Homo sapiens: one gene and its partner. The protein of the gene in region 1 interacts with the protein of each later gene in a pairwise test. Each region holds a gene or a part of one and is shown on either strand. Other genes may lie near its edges.

Region 1 (3,649 bases):
TTCAGATGAGGGATACTCAGCCTGTATTTATTCTTTCTTAGCAGCCTCAAAACCAACTTTAGATCCCATCATTACTGTTGAGGGACTTAGAAAACGAGCAAGTCGGAATCCTGTGGAATCTGCCATGGAATTAAAAGAGAAAAGGTCTCGAACTCAGGAAGCAAAAGACATTAGAAGAGCCCAGAAGGAGGCCGCTGGCTTTCTTGACAGGAGCACATCTTCTACCCCTGTAAAATTCATAAGCCGAGGCCGCAGGCCAGATGTGATTCTGGAAAAAGGCGAAGTGATTGACTTTTCCTCCTTGAGCTCCTCTGACCGCACCCCGCTGACAAGCCCATCTCCTTCTCCTTCTCTGGATTTCTCTGCCCCTGGTACACCTGCCTCTCATTCTGCCACACCTAGCTTGCTTTCAGAAGCAGATCTGATTCCAGATGTGATGCCCCCACAAGCCTTGTTTCATGGTAAGAGTTTGTTTGCTTTGCTCTTTTATTTTGGGTATGGGCCATGGTATAAATGTACAAGTTTTCACCCCGTGGGCTGTGTGCTCTGCATTTCTTCCTTCCTATGTCTTGATGACACTGTTTTGTACTCTGCACAGATGACGATGAGATGGAAGGCGATGGAGTCATAGACCCAGGGATGGAGTACGTCCCACCCCCTGCTGGGTCAGTAGCTTCTGGGCCAGTGGTTGGGGTCAGAAAGAAGGTCAGAGGCCCTGAACAGATAAAGCAGGAGGTAGAGAGTGAGGAGGAAAAACCCGACAGGATGGATATTGACAGTGAAGACACAGATTCAAACACATCTTTGCAAACAAGGGCTAGAGAAAAGAGGAAGCCTCAGCTGGAGAAGGACACAAAGCCGAAAGAGCCCAGGTATACTCCCGTGAGCATCTACGAGGAAAAGCTGCTGCTCAAGAGGCTGGAAGCTTGTCCCGGTGCTGTTGCCATGACTCCGGAAGCTCGGAGACTGAAACGCAAACTGATTGTCAGACAAGCGAAAAGGGATAGGGGATTACCACTTTTTGACTTGGATCAAGTTGTTAATGCTGCTCTTTTGTTAGTTGACGGGATTTATGGAGCCAAAGAAGGAGGAATTTCCAGACTTCCAGCTGGACAAGCCACGTACAGAACCACCTGTCAGGACTTCAGAATCCTTGACCGATACCAGGTGAATGCAAGCACTTGCTGTAAAGCCCTTGGGGGCAGGAGTGGAGGTGGGGCAGGCAGCACTAGGCATTGGACATGGTTATGCTGTGACCTTTTAAATCCTGAGTAATTTGGGAAGAGAAAAGTAAAGTGCAAGGGAAAAAAATACAAAAATCGCTGGGCTTTATTTTTCAGAATTGTTCATTGTAAGTACACCTGAATACATCTGAGTTTTTCTTTTCCTTTAGGCATTCAAACATAACCTATAAGTTTTCTTCATCTGTCTCTCTTGTCTCTCTCTCTCTGAGGATAGATATGCATGGTTTGTGTCGTAGCTTTGACAAATTTGTTGAGGCCATGACGGTGTCTCTGACACTGTGTTGCAGAGGATCTGAAGGTGTGTAGACATCTGCGAAGGACAACATGAAGAAATAGCAGCCAAGGGATCAGTGTGGTATCAGTGTTGCTCAAAGGATGGTCGGTGGAACCCAAATTTTGTGGATGCTTCTGGGAACAATTAATTCCACTTAGAACTACCTGTATATACTCTCCCACTGGGAGGAACAAGAGGCCTTATTCCCTTTATCTTTGCTAGCACTTGACACTAACCAGCCTTTAAGTTTTGCTAATTGGCTGGCTGTAAAGTGAAATCTTGTTTTTTATTTATATTTCTTTGGTTACAGGTGAGGTTAAATTTCCTGGTTGTTTCTTTGTGAATTGCCTGTTTGGAGTCTGCATGTTTTTCTCTCTTCTCTGGAAGCTAGTGGGATCTGCTCTTCATTGCTGGTGTTCTGGTATTATTCAGTGATGTGCCGTATGTAGGGCTTATGTCTTTCCTTGTGCTGGACATGTGGTGTGTGGGCCCTTTCAATTTGAAACTTTCTTTCCTGAGTATGGAAAAGTCTTGATTTCCTATCTTCTATTTTTTCTGTTCTCTCATTTTAGAACTCCCCATTATTTGGATATTGGACCCTGTAGATTAAAAGTTGGCAAACTTTATCTGTAAAGAAATAAGTATTTCTGCCAGATAGTAATTATTTTAGGCTTTGCCGGCCACAAAATCTCATTCGGAACTCTTCAACTCTGCTGTTGTGATTGGAGAGCCGTAGTGAATGAGTGTGGCTGTGTTCCAGTAAAACTTTATCTACTAAAATGGGCAGTGGACTGGATTTAGCCTGGGGGCTATAGTTTACCAAGATCCCTACTCCAGATAGATCCTCTTTTCTTTTTTTTCCTAATTCCCATCTTTCCTGGGAAGCACAGTATTAACTGGCCTGCCTACCAGGAGCCAAGTCGGGAGGGCCCAGGAGCCCATCGTTTAGGAGGTAAACTGACTCTCCCTGTCTTCAGTACAGTACTCCCACCCTTGGCTTCCTGTGTCCAGAATCTCCCTCTTGAGCCTCTCCAGTCTTCTGCCCGTGGAGGGAAAGATCATTTCCTAGATGTGGGCAGTATAATTACTATAGGGGTATAATTGGAGCCTTTAACCTCTTAAAGAGCCTCACAATCCATAGTCATACCCCCCAGGCTCTAAGCCTGATGCCTTAGGTGACTACACTTCCCTGAGGCTGTGTTTTGTAAATCACCCTGCTTAGCTTCACCACTGGCTTAGGTATTGGCTTTCTTTGGTCTGTTAAGTCATTTGCTGCTTGTTCATATGCTTTTGTTAGTCATCTATTCACTTGTTCTTGTTCTTTTTTTTTTTTTTTTTGAGACATGGTCTCTCTCTGTCACGCAGGTTGGAATGTAGTGGCACAACCACAGCTCATTGCAGCCCCGAACTCTCAGGCTCAAGCAATTCTCCCACCTCAGCTTCCCAAGTAGCTGGTACTATAGGCACACACTACCACACTCAGCTAATTTTTTTTTTAATTTTTATTTTTAGTAGAGACAGGGTCCTACTATCTTGCCCAGACTGATCTCAAACTCCTGGGCTCGAGTGATCGCCTCAGCCTCCCAAAGTGCTGGGATTACAGGCATGAGCCATTGCGCCTGGCCAATATTCACCTGTTCTTTGTTCTTATTCTTGTGGGCCTGTCTGTTTACTGCCTATACTTAATTTTTTAAATTGTAAGATGTGTCATACAGATAGAAGGCAGCATAGAAATATGGTATAATTTAGATATTAGTAAAATAAATGCCCATGTATTCATCTCCTGGATAAAGAGTGTTGTAAACACCTTAGAAGTCTCCTGTGTACTTTCTGTTCCCCTCAGAGGAAGCCACTTTGACTTACAGTGTTAATTATTCTTTTGCTTTTTAAATGTGTATGTCTCTAAATGATATACTTTTCGTTTAAAAAAATACTGAGTAGCAAGCATAAATCTAGCTGTGTAAGTAAATTGCCACTATTAGATGAAGTTTCCTGGAGAAGATAAGCTAAATAGTCATTCTGGGTCATTGTTGTGGACTGAATTGTGTCCCCCTTAAGCATATGTTGAAGTCCCAACCCTGGTACCTATGAATGCAGCCTTATCTGGAAATAGGCCCTTTGCAAATATAAT
Region 2 (3,749 bases), on another chromosome or scaffold:
TAGCCTCAAGCAATCTTCCCGCCTTGGCTCCCCAAAGAGTTGGGATTAAAGGCGCGAGCCACTGCGCCCAAGGGTTCCCTATTTTCTTTTTCTCTGAGAGGAGTCTCGCTCTGTCACCCCGGCTGTAGTGCAGTGGTCCAATCTCGGCTCACTGCAACTTCCATCTCCCCGGTTTAAGCAATTCTCTGCCTCAGCCTCCCCACTAGCTGGAATTACAGGCGCCTGCCACCACACCCGGCTGAATTTTTCTATTTTTAGTAGAGATGGGGGTTTCACCATGTTGGCCAGGCTGGTCTCAAACTCCTGGCCTCAAGTGATCCGCCCACCTCAGCCTCCCAAAGTGCTGGGATTACAGGCGTGTGCCACTGTGCCTGGCCTTGGCCTTCCTTTTTTCATTCATTTAATTCTCATAGCAATCTGGCAACAATTACTTCTCAGACACAGAAGCTGAGAATCAGAGGTAACATAAAGACACAGATTAGGGGTACATTAGATATAAATTAAAATTTAAATATAAAGGCTAGGCTCCGTGGCTCACGCCTGTAATCCCGGCACTTTGGGAGGCCGAGGTGGGCTGACCGATTGAGGTCAGGAGTTCGAGACCAGCCTGGCTAACATATCGAAACTCAGTCACTACCAAAAATACAAAAACTACCTGGGCGTGGTGGTGCGTGCCTGCAATCCCAGCTAATCGAGAGGCTGAGTCAGGAGAATCGCTTGAACCCGGGAAGCAGAGGCTGCAGTGAGCCGAGATCGGCTACTGCACACCACTCTGGGCGACAGAGTCAAACTCATTAAAAAAAAAAAATTAATATAATAAAATTTCTCCTAAATCTAAATCCTTTTCTTCACTTTCAGGGTGGATTACTGGACAAATTAACATTTGTATGGCATTTTTACATCTCTATAGCAGTTCTACATTTTGATTTGAAATTTATATTTGCATAAACCTTACAAAAAGTACTCACTTTGGACCTCACAAAAGACTTAAAACCGAGACAGTTAAAAATGACCCAGTTCAAGTCAAGAGGACCTGAGAGCGCTCGGATATGGCCGTTCAGTGCCTGTGCAACGTCTTAAATCCTCTCTTCCTTCAGTTTCTGTCTGCATTGTTCCCAATGTCTGGCTTCTGATTACTCCTAGGTCCTAAGGACGCTGGGAAAAGGGGACGAATTCATTCTCAGCACCCTCGGTTTAGGATCTGTGTCCGTCTAAAGGAAATTAAGGGGTTTCATTCTTTTCCAAACTCAGCTCAATTACCTCTTCCTAAAATCTTTCCTTTAACACCCTTTTCTCCTGTTACCATTTCCCTCTAGCCCCCATATTCAGTTAGTTCTTTCTGACAGGACTAAGCACCTCTTCAAAACAGAAAACCCGGGCCGGGAGCAGCGGCGGGCGCCTGCAGTCCCAGTAGCACTTTGGTAAGCCGAGGTGGGAGGATCGTTTGAGCCTGGGCGGTTACAGTGAATAGTGATGGTGCCACTGCACTCCAGCCAGGGAGACAAAAGTGAAACCCTGTTCCAAAACACAAACCTGAAAACCTAATTTTTTAACTTTTTCTTTTGAGGTGGAGTTTCGCTCTGGTTGCCCAAGCTGGGGGTGCAATGGGGCGATCTCGGCTCACCGCAACCCCCGACTCCCGGGTTCAAGCGATTCTCCTGCCTCAGCCTCCCGAGTAGCTGGGATTACAGGTGTGCGCCACCACACCTGGCTAATTTTGTACTTTTAGTAGAGACGGGGTTTCTCCATTTTGGTCAGGCTGGTCTCGAACTCCCGACCTCAGGTGATCCGCCCGCCTCGGCTGCCCAAAGTGCTGGGATTACAGGCGTGAGCCACCGCGCCCGGCCTCTTTTTTTTTTTTCCCCATCTTTTGACACACTCAACCTCCTCAACTAAACCTAGAAAACCTCATTTCTTACTTGTCTGCTCACTCCAATATACCAGGCTGCAATCATATTCTTGGGCCTTACTCTTAAAATAAAAAAAAAAAAAGTCAAGAGGAGAAAATTCGAAGGCACATTCTTTTCTCCTTAAAGGAAAAATCAGGAGTGCCCAGGGAAGACAGAAACACAAAGACAGACAGAAAACAAATCCACTAAAACTGTACTGACCTCCTTGCCTTTTGCCTTCTCCATACTTGTAGAAGAAGCGGAGCCTCGCAACATGCTTCCAAAATGGCCCCTGCCCCAAGATTGCTATTTGCAAAGTCTCCTCCCACTTCCTGCCGCCCGAAGACCCTTTTTCTCTCCACCTCACCTCTTCTTTTCTTCTCCCCTTCTGTTCCCTCCCCCACAATTTGTAAATGCTAAAATTGCATTCTTTCTTATTCATGGGGTGACTTTTGTCTGGGTTGAATTACTAATACTATTCCTGGCCCTTTTCTGTTCACTTTAAATGTAATTATCCAAAGTATGGTTCCGGAGACATTGGGAGATTGAGCACTCCTTCAGAACGATTCTACGGGGAAAAAAAACAAAAAACAAAAAACAAAAAAACAGTGGCCAGAGACTTGAGCAGGATGTGTGAAGGGATTTAATAATGGAACTTGTGGCAACAGTAGACTTCAGAGACCAGACTGGCGGCTTGAAGAAAGCTATTTTCTCGTACCAAATACATTCCATTTCCTAAGTAAGTTACTCAACCAACTAAAACTCCAGGTTTCTCTGTACTAATACCGAGCATCTTTTCATCTGCCAACGAACTAATAATAGTAGCTTTTAAAGTCTATAGAGTATTTGTTATTTATTTTGTAGAGGGCAAGTGGGGGGGTCTGGCTATTTTGACCTGGCTGGTCTCGAACTCCTGCCCTCAAGTAATTCTCCAGCCTTGTCCTCCCAAAGTGTTGGGATTACAGGCGTGAGCCACCACTCCCCGCCCGAGTATTTTTTTATATCTCAAATTGTGAGTTTTAAATTCAGTCATTATTGTTCCCCATTTTATATATGACTAAAGTTGGTATAAATTTTTATTGGTAACTTTTTCAATAGCACAGTAAGTGAACCCCTAACCTACTGACTCCCAAAGAAGTTCAAGTTTTTCTCCTTAAAATAATTTGAAAAATCTTTCCTCAGATCAGTGCTCCCTGTCAGATTGTCAAGAGATGTGAAGTGAAGGAAGCAGTGGCTGTGCGACTGAAACCCTCCCTTGTCAGGGTCCAAAGTCTCTTTTGTTCTTTGGTTTACTTTGTTGTTTTTTTTTCCTACATCTCATTGCTTGTCCTAAAATGATAAATAAGAGACTGTCTTTATCCAAATGGTGTTAGTAATCTGCTCACAGGCTAGAAATCCACGGACAGAAAAAGTAAGTAAACGGAGCCCAGGAATAGAGAAGGAAGTGCAGGTTGTGGACTGGGCAACCCCCAAGGCGGCAAAGAGGAAACCAGGTGAGTTGAGGTCATCTGGGAGATATTAGGGCTTTGATTTAACAATTCTTTACCACAGCCTTTGGTAACCACCAGTAGGACTTTCTAATTAAGGTTTGTGTATAAAGTGTATAACTGAATCATCTTTCTTTTGTCAGTGTAATTGAACGTAACATTCAGAATAACTGGAGTTCTGGGCTGGGCATGGTGGCTCACGCCTGTAATCTCAGCACTTTGGGGGGCTGAGGTGGGCAGGTCACTTGAGTTCAGGAGTTTTGAGACCAGCCTGGCCAACAATGGCAGAACCCCTTCTCTACTAAAAATGCAAAAATTAGCCGGGCATGGTGCGTGCCTGTAATCCCAGCTACCAAGGAGGTTGAGGCAGGAG

Evidence for each region. The genes of interacting proteins can lie anywhere in the genome.
Region 2: the proteins of KAT14 (region 1) and DPPA4 interact in binary tests that used the Homo sapiens proteins (3 or more experiments, as listed by UniProt).

What each region holds. Positions count from the first base shown.
Region 1 is NC_000020.11:18,161,779-18,165,427, forward strand, and holds part of KAT14 (cysteine-rich protein 2-binding protein), read left to right. Parts: intron 1-41; coding exon of another isoform or gene 42-44; coding exon 45-461; intron 462-598; coding exon 599-1,167; intron 1,168-3,649. UniProt on the Homo sapiens protein: Component of the ATAC complex, a complex with histone acetyltransferase activity on histones H3 and H4. May function as a scaffold for the ATAC complex to promote ATAC complex stability. Has also weak histone acetyltransferase activity toward histone H4.
Region 2 is NC_000003.12:109,335,353-109,339,101, forward strand, and holds the start of DPPA4 (developmental pluripotency-associated protein 4), read right to left. Parts: upstream 2,195-3,749; 5' UTR 2,166-2,194; coding exon 2,112-2,165; intron 1,356-2,111; exon of another isoform or gene 969-1,355; intron 1-968. UniProt on the Homo sapiens protein: May be involved in the maintenance of active epigenetic status of target genes. May inhibit differentiation of embryonic cells into a primitive ectoderm lineage.